2 linked regions of the Homo sapiens genome follow. The protein of the gene in region 2 interacts with the protein of the main gene of each other region in a biochemical or structural test. Each region holds a gene or a part of one and is shown on either strand. Other genes may lie near its edges. The genes, in order: CLK4 and MITF.

Region 1 (7,278 bases), on a different chromosome or scaffold from region 2:
GAGGCCCTATCTCAAATAAATAAATAAATAAAATTTCATCTGAATTATGAATCTTTCCCCACCAAAAACATCAGAATGTTTGAAAAGGAAAAAACAAACTTACATGCCATGATCAATGCACTCTACAACTTTGCCAAAGGCTCCTTCACCCAAAGTGTCCACGATTTCATCTAGAGTGAGGAGGGAAAAAGAGGTGTAAGTACCTGAGTACAAACTGTCTAGTTCTTCAAACAATGAATGCTTAAGTGTGGAATATTTTCAAATGATCTCTAACAAAGCATAACTAAGGTTTCAGCACTCAAATTATTTTAGTTTCAGCTGCTACAAAAACAATTAGATAGAGCTATCTTTCTTGCTCTAATCTCAAATTCCACTGATTATTTTGGAACTTTAGAATAGAAATATTTAAATTCTACAGAAAAGAAGAAATATAAAAGAACAAACAAACCCACAAAAAGCAAAATAAAAAAGCAATGAAGAGTTCTTTAGCCCCCCGCTGACAAACTATTCTTAAAAAGATTATTCTTTCTGCAAAGTTTAAAAAGTGTTGAAAAATATTCTATACATCTTGCTCTTAGAACGTCTCCACTTTGACAGATCAGGTGACCCTCCTCATCATCCTCTATACTCCTGGATCTTTTCCTTCGGTGGCTCTTCTGGAACGGCAAGTGGGCAGCACCAAGATCGTCCAGCCAATCAATATATCAGAGTGAATTCAGGGCAGAATACGCAATTCATTCAGCGGGGAGATATTCAGGCATTCAGATAAGCACCAGGCCACGAACAGTTGGCAGGAGCAATTTCAAATTCAGTCCCCAGAAATTCACAGGGCACAGTTTATGTTACAGAAGAAAAACATGGCAAGGAACAGATTTTCAGATAAGATACTTAAAGTGGCAATAGAAAAAAACAACACAATTGTCTCTTTAAAATACTGATTTAATTGAAGTCTGAAATTTAAAGAATGCAATGTCATGATTTACTTATCTCTTGCTATAAACAGCATATGCTGTGAATTGAGATGTCTAGTTTTTCAGAAAAATGTTTTAAAATGTCAAGACTATTTGAAATTATTCTAATTTAGCAATATTTTAAAATATACATGATTAAAATAAAAGGGGAAAATAAAGGCTAGTTAATTTCAATGTTCAATCTAATAAAAACTAGTTTTACTGAAGAAAACTTGGGGAGAAACTAATTCAAAGTTCACTGTTCAAGCAGGTGAAGATGTCTGAGTGTTAAAAAAAAAAAGGGGGGGGCAGACTTTTTGGATGTTTCCCATTCAGCACCCATTTTCACAACTTCAAAAGAATTCATTGCAGACAATGATGCACTGGACTATGGAACTATGCTCTATGCAGGTTAGTAACATTCAGGTGTCCACCAGTGCAATATTTCACATTTATTTTCAAGTACCAGATAAAGGGTTTCTAAGAAAAAAAAAATGCTTAAGATGAAAGAAAAGATATGGGTGCATGATTTTTTCATAAGAATATGTTACAAATAAAAAAATAGTTTTATTATTAAAATCAATAAACTCATTATCTGGTCTGCAGAATATGAGGAAATGTGGGCAAATGAGGGCTAGCTAATAAATATACAGATCAGCTACAAGAATTTGGAGGTTTCCTTTAAGGATTTAAGTAATATAAATACAATTATAATATATCCAAATAGTATTTTATATATATATATATAAAAAATTAGAAACTTATCAGCTCGTTAAGAGTACACACAAATAAAACTCCACTCAAATTGAAAACAAAACCAATCATACCGAACGTGACTGATGACTTGAACAGTGTCTATTGCGCTTCCTTTTAGGACTGCTTCTCCTGCTGCGGACTGAAGATTTACTGCAGTGGATTCGATACCCGCTTTCAATGTCTCTGTGATAATGTCTAGGAACATATCCTTCACAGTAGTCATTCCTGTATTCGTCAACGTATCTCCGGTCCCGATAATCTCGCTCATTCAAGGACCTTGCTTCTAAATAATGACTGCAAACACATTAAAAGATTTCAAATTATTCTCTTCATTCTGCAATAATGTGGTTCAAACAAAACATTTTCTCAGAAATTCTTAAACAGCTAACTCAATATAAGAAAAAAATTCAAACAGATGAATTAGCATTTATATTTATCTCATAAAGCTTAAGAAATAATTTTACTTTAACAAACAAGCAAATGGGCCCATTATAGAGTTTGCTGTCAAGCACTTCACACCAAGGAATAAAGCTTGAGTCAAATCATTAATTCATGTCTAGTGTTTACTTGATTAAGTGTTCCTTTACCTTCTGCACCTGTATCTAAGCTGTCTTAGTCTCTCACAGAGGTACAATCAGAGGCAGGCAAAAAGGATTCCTTTCTCTTGTAATGTAAGAGCATTTTAGATATCCCTGGCACAGAGAGAATTCCTTCATGAAAGGTATATTAGAGCTATAAGGAGCCTTAAATGTATTCCAGCCCTTTCATTTTACCGACGACTACATTAAGATCCCTAGAAGAAAAATGATTTACCAAGGTTGTATAACAACATTAGTGACAAAAACTAAAATATTTTCAAACCACTATTATACAGGCCAATTTTATTACACACAGCATCTATCATGTCTCCTCTACTCTTTGCATTTCTAGCCTTGTTATTCCTGTTTGAGAAATAGAAAACATAGCTTTTGAGGACTGCCTCATGTGCCAAAGGCATCTAAAATATATCCCCCTAAAATAAGAAAGGGATCCTGTAGTTTAGCATTACAATAGTTCCACCACCCTACTTCCCTTTGCATTTCTAATTTCCTGTCATTCCTGTTTGAGAAATACCTAAGAAACAACAGAAAACACCATCATCTAGTGCCATCGTGCTTTAATCTAGAGATCCCTTTGAAAATCTGCTGAAAGCCATGGACTCTCTTTCCTAAGAAACACATAAACAAAACTTGGCAAGGAATTTCAAAGGTCATGGGCCTCAGGATGTCAATGGATCCCAGTTAAGTGGCCTTGATCTGATGGAAAGAAAAGGACATAGATTCAATTGGCCCAGTTTCCCGTCCCCCTCTCTACCTGGGATGAGTGTCCTCTTCAACAGAGTGCGAAGCTTCAAGAGGGATGCACATGGAGCACTGAGGGAGAGAGGGGACACCTGCCCAGTCAGACACATCGGCTAAAATAAGCCTAACAAGCAATGGAGTGACGGATGTTGACTAGATTGCCCTCACCAACCCCTTTCCTTTCCCCAGAATATGCTGTCATTCTTTTTCCCAGGGGGCTGGTTTAGGCAGAAATAGAAGCATCTTTACAACTACTACCCAATAGGGCTAGCATCAAATCCAGGCTGGGGAGATACAGAAACCCGGTTCTCTTTCCCTAGCATCAGCTTTAAGTTGTATTTATTGGAGAAACAACTCAGGATATTTGGGTAAGACTGTGGGTAGTCTAGGTCAGATATCTGATCAGTTGGCTTGGAACTGTCAGGGAGAGATCACCAATACAATAAGCTAGACGTGACCATACTCTTAAGGGCATCCTTCCCATAAAAGTCCAAAATCCTTCTATTAGAAAAAACTAGCACTAACAATCTTTAGCTGGAATACTGCATGGAATTAGAGCTGCTAAGCCATAAACAACGTATAGAGTAACAAAACATGGAGTGAACACCATGAGGACAAACTAAAAGGATGAGAGTCTCTTCAATAGATAATGGCCAATGACCAAGGCTGAGAGATTATATAAACAAAGTCTACAGAATTACACAGGCTATGGACAGGGTAGACAGGATGAACAGACTGATTTAATTTTTTAAAATATCCACTGAATGCCCAGTGAATATTTCACTATAGCCTTTCAAATAGCCAAGACGGATGAGGGTAAGGGCATTCGTTTTTATATCCACACAGGTCCTGTGGGAGATAAAAAAAAAATTATATAAGGCAAAGTCCCTGCCAACAAATAATGAACAATTTGAGATTACTCACATAAAAATGAAACAAAATCCAACAATGTAGGAAATTCTAAAAGGTTACAACACATGAGTGCTTAGAGTCAGAGATGGGGGAAAAAATCTGTTTAAAATGGTCAGAGAATAATTACAAAAAAGATGGAAATAGAGTTGCATCTTAAAGGGAAGCCAGGATTTGGAAAAAGTAGAATACAGAAGAAATTCCGGGGGAGAAGAATGGCATATTACCATCTTAAATTCATATGGCACTTTTAGCCACAATGGCTTAGAGATGGAATTGTCTATGCATTACTCAGGAAAAAGACAATCCCAGCAAGAGCAATTTTCACATAGGGGAATGTAGACAAATAAGTAAGCTGAGAATAGCATCATTAAAAACCCTGCGTGCTAGGCTAAAGAGTATTATTTCTCAAAGGACGGTCTATTTATCAACAGTATCAAATATGGAGTTCTTATTAAAAATGGTAACCCTGGGCCTTAGGTCATACTCACTGACTGTAAATCTGGTCAGCATACCTCCAAGGTGATTCTTATTCACACTAAAGTTGGAGAATCACTGGTTTAAGACTTGATACTTTATGTTACAGGCTTCTGACCACAATATATAAAGGTAGGGTTTACAGCCACATCAGTCTTTCTAATGCAGAATGGATTAACTAAGCCTGTAGAAAGGGAGACCAATTCACAGGCTACCTCCAAAAGACAAATCATAAAGAAAAGACACTATGCAATATATATATGACAAATGGTTAAAATATTGTAATAAAAAGCTCTTCTAAATCAATAAAAATACTTTAATAAATAGGCTAAGAATAAAAAGATGTTCAAATGATCAATAAATATATGACAGCGGACAAATTCGTTAGAAATTTAAAAATTCAGTTTAATCAAAACATTATGCTTGGCCTTTCAAAACAGCCAAGATTGGTGAGAGCATGAAGGAGCACGTTGTATAATTTGGCAAACTCTCTAGAAAAAGAAATATGAACCTGTAGCAAGAAATAAGAGTTCACATGCTTTAACTTAAAAATGCTTCTTCCTGGAGTGTATTTTCAGGAAATAATCAGTGGCAAAGATTTAGAAACAAAGATTTTTTTTTTAATTATAATTTTACAGCTAAATAATGGGGACTAATTTCCTACAGAGATTACCATCTTTATACTTTTCTGCATTTTTCAGTTTTTTGTTATTTTATAAAAACACTCAAAGTTTTTGACCTTCAAAAATTAGAATATTCTGGATCATGGTAAACGCTGACCACCAAACACATCTGGTACAAATATCAAAGCAGGCACTGGCCTGGTGGTTAACTGGACTCAGTATCATGTTTACGTAGTTAACTATGAGCACAAATGAACTGTTCATCACTCATATCACTTCCTTTCTATATATACAACGTATAATTATCCTATGAATAACCAGTACTATGACGTTAAGCCTTAGGGTTTTTTGTATTTATTAATAGTGGGGTACAGATGGTTTTTTTTAGTGTACTGTACATTAATTATTAATTATCTCTGGTCTCTGAAATCCTGTCATAAACCTTCCCCCTTCCCCTTATATAACAATGCGTATGAAGCATGATTTGTCTGCACTGACTACAAATAAGCTGTTTGGCAGAACAAGTCTGTTAACGTGGAGAAGGAAAGAAATTACATACTGTTTTTTAAAGTAACCCCAGCTGGCTAATTTAGAAAGCAATCTGGTAAACAGTCCCAATGGAACATCTGCACAAAACGAGAAAACAGAACCAACAAAACAAACGAAAAAGGGAAATTAATGAAAGAGTGAAAACTTACCTAGCCTTTCTTTAATCATTTAGAACTTTAAGATTCCTTTAATTCTATATAAATATATTACCTCCAAATTGTACACTGGTAAGAATACAATAAAACAGCACACATGCTGTTGCAAGTTTTTATTGAGGCCATTTCCCAAATTACTAGCTACTACCTATGCAAAAGAATAGTTCTTAAATAAAGCCAGCTTCTAAAAATCCCAAACATATCCCTTGGCCTCATCTACAAATATAACCTGTACGACATGGTATAAGTGACTAATAATACATGCTGCTTTTCTCTGTTGGAATAACTCCTCCCCTATAAAACCCTACCTTATTTCTGAAACAATGAGCACTACAACATACCCATCTCCCTCCTACATACAAGTTAAAGGTACTCATTGGGCATTCTATCACTATTACTTAACTTTTTGTGTGTCATCTCCCTAATCACGTTACTGGCAGTTGGGACTCACCATGTTATTTAATACATTTCACATTCACTTACTGATCAACTGTCTCCTACCACTCCCAGGCAGACAGACATACATAAGGATAAGAACTTTGTTTTATTTACAGCTGTAGCCTCAGCGCCTATCTAAAATAAGTACTCAAATATTTTCTAAACGAATATTTGTTGACTGAATTATAAAACAATTTGACAGATGAAAGCTATATAAGCAAATGACAAATCATTTAAAACTATTAGAGCTAAAATGCTAGTAGTTCAAGAGTTAATTTACCAATCAGATTCTTTAAACTGGTGATGTGGTTTACAATGCCTGTTCTCTTGTGTGCTACTATGAGATCTCCTCTTCCGCTTGTGACTTCCACGATAGCTTTCATGTCCCCAGCTTTCTCTGCTATCCCAATCAGGACAGTGAGTTCTTTTGGAATGCCGCATCTGTTGATAGAAATGAAAAGGGAATTGTGGAGGTTACAGATGTGTGATAGGTAAATTATTATATATTAATATTATTTAAGTTATCAAAACCCAACACACAGGGTCTTACAGGCTCCAAAATCTTTTTAGGTGGTAATGCTTCCCAAGGCACTGGTATGTCAGATGACTGCTAAGAGGCATAGAGATCTAGTATTAAATTGTGGGTAATACTGATACCTTAAGACATTTTTTTTTTTTGAATTCTGATTACAGCCAGGACAAATTCTCAGCTTGGTGCTTGTCTTCAACTAACACTTGCTAACTGCCTTTTTAAAAATTAAAAAAAAGCCGGGGGGGGCAAATAAAAAGGTTCAGGCCTAGTGTTTCCAGCAGACAAGAGTATTTAGCTAAAAATTAGTAACGTTTTTATTTATCTTATTTTGTTACTTTCTACTTATTAGTGATTTTCCAATTAAGTTATTGACATATTTTCTTTTAAAAATGTTAACATTAAAATGTGAGCTGATTTAAGGAGAAATAATATCAGTGTCATGCAGCTTTGGCAAAGTACTGTAATACAAATAACTGAAGTGCAAGACAAAAACACTTAGGGATACTAAATATGGGAGGTGACTTTGTTTTAATGGTAAAGAGCTATTCA
Region 2 (7,607 bases):
GCCTGGCTGTAGCAGAGGGAGGTAGGAGGCAGGCAACAAGAGATAAGGTCAGAGCTGACATCTTAAGAACCTTGAATTTTACTGGGAGAAATTAGGAGCCATGGGCAGGTTCTGGGCAGAGAATGACAGGATCTGACTTGAGGTTTAACACAGAGTTGCTTGACCTCAGCACTACTAACAATTTGGGACCAGATAATCCTTTGTTGTGGGGGCTGTCCTGTGCACTGTAAGATGTTTAGCAGCATCTCTGGCCTCCACCTACTAGATATGGGTAATGATCCCTTCCACTGTAACAATCACAAATGTCTCCAGACACTGTCAAATGACCCCAGGGGCAAAATCACCTCCAACTGAGAACCAGTTTTAACAGGAACATTGTGGCTACTATACTGAAAATTCACTAAATGTGGGTATTGCAGTTTAAAAGACTACTGCAATAATCCAGGCAAGGGCTGATGGTGGCTTGGACCAAAGTGGTAGCAGAGGAGGTGGTAAGAAGCGGGCAGATTCTGGACATATTTTCAACTCTAACAACTCTGGACAATCCAGAGAAGACAGTTGATAGGCAGAACGGCTACAGCAGTCTTCACATATCAATTTCAACTTTTTCCGACAAAGACTTGTAAGAAGTGAGGTGCCCCAGCAAAAACATAAGACAAAAAGCAATGAGAGAGAAGGCCCTGAACAATGTGCAGCCCTTTTAAGTCACACAACAGATGTCGACGACAATACCTTAGACAACTGTGGAAAACAGTATAGAGAAATGTTGCCAACTCCATATATTTATTCACAGATTTTATTTAACTGGTTTATTTCAAAGAGCATGTGTGTGCTCCATATACAAGTTTTACAACAACTTTTTTAATTTAGCCTTCCTTTCCCTGCTGGTTCAGGCCCACACCTGTTTCTAGCATTAACGTGTGAAGCCATTTCTTCCCACATACCCACATTTTCCCTTACACGTGCCTGCTAGCTAGCTACTGAGGACGTTCACCCTTACAAGTCTTTTTTGCTGACTCTGAAAAAGAACAGGCCCAAATCGTGCAACATGAGTTTCACGGCACTCATTTGGGTTTTTCCAGATGGTATTTTCCTCGCTCTCTCAAACTGATTTAATGTTATGTATCAGCTACCATCAGAAATGTTCCAAACAGTCCGGTTAATTTATTTCTTTCAGGATTCCACACACACACTCATTCCCTCATTCTGGCCGTGTAAGCATTTGCTTATAGAAGCAAAAGCAGAGACTGCCCAGTAAAACACTGGTCCCTTCAGCCGAATGCAGATAAAGCCCTGATGAGCATAACCAACAATACCCTTCACACAATATTACTCAAAACCCCCAGCCCCCAACACACACAATCTATGCTCACACACAAAACAGCCATTATGAGGAAAAACCACCAACTAAAGGCTGGTTTTATACGTCCAACTGCTTAGGCGGTTTCCTTCCAATCTGCCGTGAAGCATCTACAAAGAGTCTTCAGCAATGGCAGTCAGTAGGACCGCTGTTCCCAGATTTTCTTCCCCAACTTGGATAAAGAGTCCTGCCACAGCCCTGAAGGAAATAAACCTGGCTGCACTTTCCACTAGAAAAAGAACCAGCCCAGTGCTCGCCAGAGGCCAAGATTACACCACTTGGCTCCCCGTTCAGTTGCCCTTCTCCACTCACCCTCATTTCAAGACCCTCTCCCACTCTGCCAGCCAGGCCCATTCACCCAGGCCCCATCCACAGCGAAGGGCAAGGCAGGAAGTTACAGCCGAGTGCAGAAGCCCTGCTGGATGCTTCCAATGATAGCCTTATCCTAGCTCACAGCTTAGAGGGGTGGAAATAAACCCTTCTCAGCTATTCCAGCCTCCATTGACCATGTCCCTTTTAGGAAACATTGTAAACGAGAAGTACGAGGCGTCCAGAGTGGCTGCCGGACAGAGAGAACGGAAGACACCCAATCCATTTCGACAGACAAGTGGGAATGGAGGCAGCAAAAAGGGTGGCTCAAGGGAAGTGGGCACTAGAGGGGATGGGGCATCAGAGCAGTGGATGTCTTCACTCCTCGTCTAAAAAGTTTCTGAAGTCCCCAGCGAATTAAACACGTGTCTCTGCCAAGCGGGGTACACTCCCAGTAACCCCCAAGACCAAGGCTCATTTCCCCTCTGCAGGTAAGGCCTGGATTTGAATGGGACTCTATTTCCAGAGAGTTTAACTTGAACAAGGGGACACGCCCACCGCTGCCCTGGCCCCTCCCGCGCCCGCTAGCAGCGGTCTGGAGGTGAGAGGCGGAGCCCAGAGAAACCTCACCTGCAGGAGCCCAGAGGCTAGTTTCCCCACAGAGACCGGACTCCCAAGAGGTGACTCCAAGCGAACTAATTGCTTCCCTCCAATGTCGCATCTCAGTCCACCCAAAGCTCTCCCTCTCCGAGCCCTCAACCCGCTGGGATCTTCAGAAAGGGGGTTCACTAGAACTCTTTCTCCCCCATCCCACCGGGACAGCGTCCCGGCCCGGCGCTCCTCCTCCCCCACATCGCGCCAGGTCGCTCCCCAGCCCCCAATCAGTCTCAGCAGCTGGCATCCTCGGCCGAGGGTCCCCGCGCCTGGACGCTTCGTCCCCGGCGACCCGCCGCGCCCCCGCGAAGTGCGCTCCATCCGAGCTTCCTAAAGGCGCACTTGGGCCGGGCAGGCGCGGCCCCCAACTGCGAGGGGCAGTTCGCCCTCTGCTCCGGGGCAAGGGCACTGGGTCCTTGTCCCAGAGCTCCCGCGACCCGCTCTCCTCGCCCCAGAGTGGCAGACGCAGTGCCCCCCAGCCGCCCGGTGCGCCTCTGCCCAGCTGTCACCACTCACCTGCTCTTCAGCGGTTGACTTTTGAGTTCGTAATAGGTTTTGGGCTCTTCATGAAACTCCTCCCCGACTTCGAAATCCGGCACGATCCCCGATTCGGACTGCATGGCTCCCGCTTCCCGTCCTTCCACTGCTGGAAAGTGAGAACAGAGCCCGGGGGCGGAGGGAAGGTAGCTGGGCCTGGGTCCCCCGAGCCGTGCGCCCCGGCGCAGTGCCGAGCTCTGCCCGCTCGCCGGCTCGCGGCCGCCCGCCCCAGCGCGGGGAGTTTACACTCGCACCCGGGCGGGAGGGGCTGGCGGCCGAGCGCCGCCTGGGATCTGTAGTTCGGCCCGGGCGGGGCATTCCCAGCTCGCCTGGGGAGCCGCTCCCACGAAAACTACAGCTCCCAGAAGGCCAGGCGGGGGAGAGGCAACGTGGTGGACACCGCTAGTGCAACTCCTGTTTGGATTCATTGTCAATGTCAGCAGCTCCTCTCCCTCCTCTCTCCCCACTTGCTTCAAGGGTACAGACTTGGCTACTTAATATGAATAAGAATGGACACTGACTGCTCTTCTACCATCGCCCCGACCTCTCAGCTCAGACATCTGCGAGGGCACGCCAAGTGCTTATTTTAAAAATAAAATAGTCAAGGGTTTTGGCACAAGAAAGTTTTAGCATTCGAGCCTGTCTTAAAATAAAAGGACTTCCTATCAGCTCGCATGCTTCCCTGGGCTGCTGCGACATATCAGCTTGTCCTCGGATTGGAACAACGAGGAAGAACTTTCCTTCGCTCTGTAATGAAAACGTTATTGGAGAAATTGTTCTTGTGCGTTCCTTTTCTAGAACTAAGTCTGGACTTTTACAATAGTATTCATCAGTTGAATGGCTCTTTCCCCTTTATCCAAGTAGCCACTTCTAATCTACAGCAGCAATTGAAAGATTCGGTTAATTTTAAAAGGCACAAAGTTACAAAATAGCGTCGTTGCTCTCTGCTTTTAATTTCTCAGTTGACTGGGAGTTCAAATGAGATTTGTCCTAGCATTTCAGGAGTGAAGATGTACAAGTGAACTGTACAAGTGTCCACCCCTTCCCGAGCTTCCCGGAACTCACTTAGGGAAGAGAATTTTAAAACTCTCCGTTGTGGCTCATTTGTACTTCTAGTTCTTCCCTCTGATTAGCTCCAGTAGGACGTGTTCCTTCTTTTCAAAAGTGTTTTGAGGCATCAGGGAGGCAGTATAGAGTTACAGTGGCATTTAAAGGTATAAGACTCAGAGTTGAAATCCCCAGTCCTTCTAAGAAGAGCTGTGCAATCCTGAGCATGTCACTTGGTTCCTAGAAGCCTCCATTTCTTCATCCATAAAAGAAGAGATTGGCAAACCAGTTTTAGAAGATGTTGCAAGGTCAAATGTAAGAGAAAGTGATTTGCAATCTATAAAAACTCTGCTCAGTGGTCATTCTTTATTAGGTCTTGAAGTTATTCCTTTCAGATTAACATCTCATTTTGGTGTTTGGCCTTTCAGAATTAATAAACTAAATGACTGTCCTAGGAGAAAATTCTAAAGAGGCTACAGTGACAACTGGGCACCTCCCAGGAGTTACCCCTTTGCATATCTTGCCTCCCACTGAAACATTTTAATTTCACATCAGAAAAGACATCCAGTAGGATGGATCGATGTTAGGGCTGGAGTTCTCAAGGTGATTTGGAAAAAGTGCAGAAGGCACACTATGTTGCAGTAGCAATTACCAAATTTTCAGAATAAAAATTAGTCCCCAACATACGACTTTTAGGCCCTCCCCTGAAACTATTAAACTATGTCAGAATACCTGAGAACACCCCTAAGGAAAGTGGGAGTTTTGTGCTCATAAAAGTGGGATCCTAGATTCCTTAATAGATGGACTGCTGGAAATTAGCTGTCAAAAGCAAACAAAGAAAACGTGTTTCCTTCATGTTCTCTGGGAGAGAAAGAAGAAAGATCAAACATGAAGGAAACATGCAGTCTAGACTTCTAATCTCATCTGGGCTCTCAATTATCAGTGCTTGGAATATGGGAGGAGGGGTTGTCATAATAACTTATGGATGTTACAGACGTTTAAGGGGTATGGGCCAGAGACACTACACATATTGCACAATAACAAATTTTCTTGTCCAAATTTCAGTGGTATGTATCCCCATTGAGAAACATGGGAAGCTGCCTAATCTTTGGGCTCACCAGAAGTTTTTTAATCTGAGGGAAGCTACGGATCCTCTTCTCAGAAAATACAGATAGAAACAAAACTGTGCATAATTTTGGTCAGCTGACCCACTGAAGGCTATCACAGACTTTATGTTACAACTGCAGTTTATAACTTCTTTAGATCTGCAGTGAAACAGTCTACCCATCACTTATTACATCAAATAGTGACCTTCCAGACCTAAGGGACTAACCTCAAAGGAAAGAAAACTCAGGAAAACCAAGACCTCCGAATTCATCTTCAACTAAGTACACCCGCAAGAGAGGTCTCCAGGGTGCAGACCTCTGAGCTGAGGTTGTCCTGAGGTTCACACAGATAGCTGTTATTTTTTTCTCCTATACCTTTTCTTCTGGTCTCATCCTACTCCTTGTTCAGGAAAACTTATTTTCCATTACATATGGCTGGGTTATCCATTACAGTGCAGTCTGCTACCCAGTGCATTCTGATTCCTTTAAGACTGGACAGGGGACCTTGAGATGACTAGAAGTCCTCCTTAGGACTTCTCTGCTAGGGCAATGGGAGAAGACTGTTTGCTTTGCTAGAAAGAAGAAAATCTGGAGCTACTTACCCATGGGCAATTAGGGAAGCTAATTTGAAATGGAAGAGAATGAGATAAGATCAACAAAAAGAAGAAGAGACAAGCAAAGATAAAGAATAGAAAAGTACGACAACATTGTTTCACTTCCTTGTTCCAACCATACCTGAAGTCAGATATCCTTGGACTTTTTAGATATATGAACAAAAAAAAATTCCTTTTTGCTAGAACTATTTTTTTGTCACTTGCAACCACAAGAGCTTCGCATAATCACCATAAAAATATTTCACTCCTTTAAATGGATGATTTTCTGTGGATTGCTATACCATTAATCCACATAACCAAAAGCTGGCCACCTGATAGATGTACCCTGTAATCCCTCTTCATTAATGAGTTAAGCCCTAGGGTTAGGTACCACTTTGAAAAATAGATGATAACAGGCAATAGATCCATACATTTAAACTAAAGACTGAGCCTATTAAATGTACAAAAGCAATGACTACAGATTATAATTGTTGTTATTAATATTACATGTATTTATGTAATACATTACTTTTTACATACACTTGTCACATACATCTCTTATTTGAGCTCACAAAAATCCTTCAGAGATGGATAGGCAAGGGTTCCCCATTTACTCTATACTAAATATGTGCAAGGTATGGGCATGGCAATGTGTTAGGTACCTGGAATACAAAAATATATTTGACTTCCTCCCTCCCCTCATGAAGCTTCCAGTCCATGAGTTGAGTCAAGGCTTGTAACACAATGAGAAACCACACATAAAGCAGCAATGCTAAGCAGCAGATACCCAGTGTATGATTTGTACTCTCATATCCTCTTAGCTCAACAGCTATTTTTGGTGCATCCACTCTGTGCCAGGCACATTGTGCCCTAGGTATGGGGAAATAGCAATGATGACACATATGTGGTCCCTGCACACAGGACATGGTCCTTGACCTTTTAGGAGTAGAAATGGGCAGGATTTAATGGATAACAAGAGCGATAGATAAATACTACAATTGTCTAAGAAAAGAGCAACCACTGGGGGTCGGGATATTAAGACTCCTGGAAGCGATGTGACTAAGCTCCATCTTTTAAAAAAAAAATCTAGGGTATATGAAAACTAAATGTAATCAAGCCCCTAGGTCTAACCACCAGTTCACAGGAAAAAAAATGCAAGAGAAGACCACGTCAATAACATCACAAAAATAGAATCAGACAACCCAGAGATTTAAAAATTCTGTAAGACATTGAGAAATTCTTCAAAAAATAAATAGCATGAAATAAAGGGGAAGGAAGAACTTGTAAAGGCTTTAGAAGATTTAAGAGACATATTAGGCATGTGAATTATATATCAATAAAAAATGAATTAGAGGCTGGGCTTGGGGGTTCATTCCTATAATCCCAGCACTTTGGGAGGCCAAGGTGGGAGAATTGCTTGATCCCAGGAGTTTGAGACAAGCCTGGGCAATACAGAGGGACCTCATATCTACTAAAAATTATAAATAAATAAATAAACAGGAAAAAAGAGACATATCACTGAAATACCTTATGTGGACTTTATTTGGACCCTGATTAAAACAAACCAATTGTAAAAATTCATTCTGGGGAAAACTGGGAGAGTTTGAACGTGGGCTGGAATTGAATGACATTTTAAAAGTATTGTTAATTTGTATTAGGTATGATAAGTATATTATGCTTATCTCATTTTTATACTCTTTCTGTTAGAAATACATATAAAGTATGTATGGGTGAGATGATATGATGTCTTGGAGCTGTCATAAAATATCCCATCTCCTCTCCTTCTATCTCCAGAAAGGCATGGGAAAAGAAATATGAAACGTAAATGGTAAAATGTTGAAGCCAGGTGACAGGTTATGGGAATTCACTATACTATTCTATCTACTTTAGTGTAAGCTTGAAAATTTTCATGATCAAACATTTTTTAAAAAATAAAGTAAGAAAGAAAAGAGAGAGGAAACTATCATAACAATTTCTTAAATGGGTTATGATTTCTGATGA

Evidence for each region.
Region 1: the proteins of MITF (region 2) and CLK4 form a complex in vitro, tested with the Homo sapiens proteins (one study listed by BioGRID).

Annotation. Positions count from the first base shown.
Region 1 is NC_000005.10:178,616,779-178,624,056, forward strand, and holds part of CLK4 (dual specificity protein kinase CLK4), read right to left. Parts: intron 6,639-7,278; coding exon 6,478-6,638; intron 2,001-6,477; coding exon 1,778-2,000; intron 657-1,777; coding exon 566-656; intron 171-565; coding exon 104-170; intron 1-103. UniProt on the Homo sapiens protein: Dual specificity kinase acting on both serine/threonine and tyrosine-containing substrates.
Region 2 is NC_000003.12:69,734,934-69,742,540, reverse strand, and holds the start of MITF (microphthalmia-associated transcription factor), read right to left. Parts: upstream 3,078-7,607; 5' UTR 2,944-3,077; coding exon 2,840-2,943; intron 1-2,839. UniProt on the Homo sapiens protein: Transcription factor that acts as a master regulator of melanocyte survival and differentiation as well as melanosome biogenesis.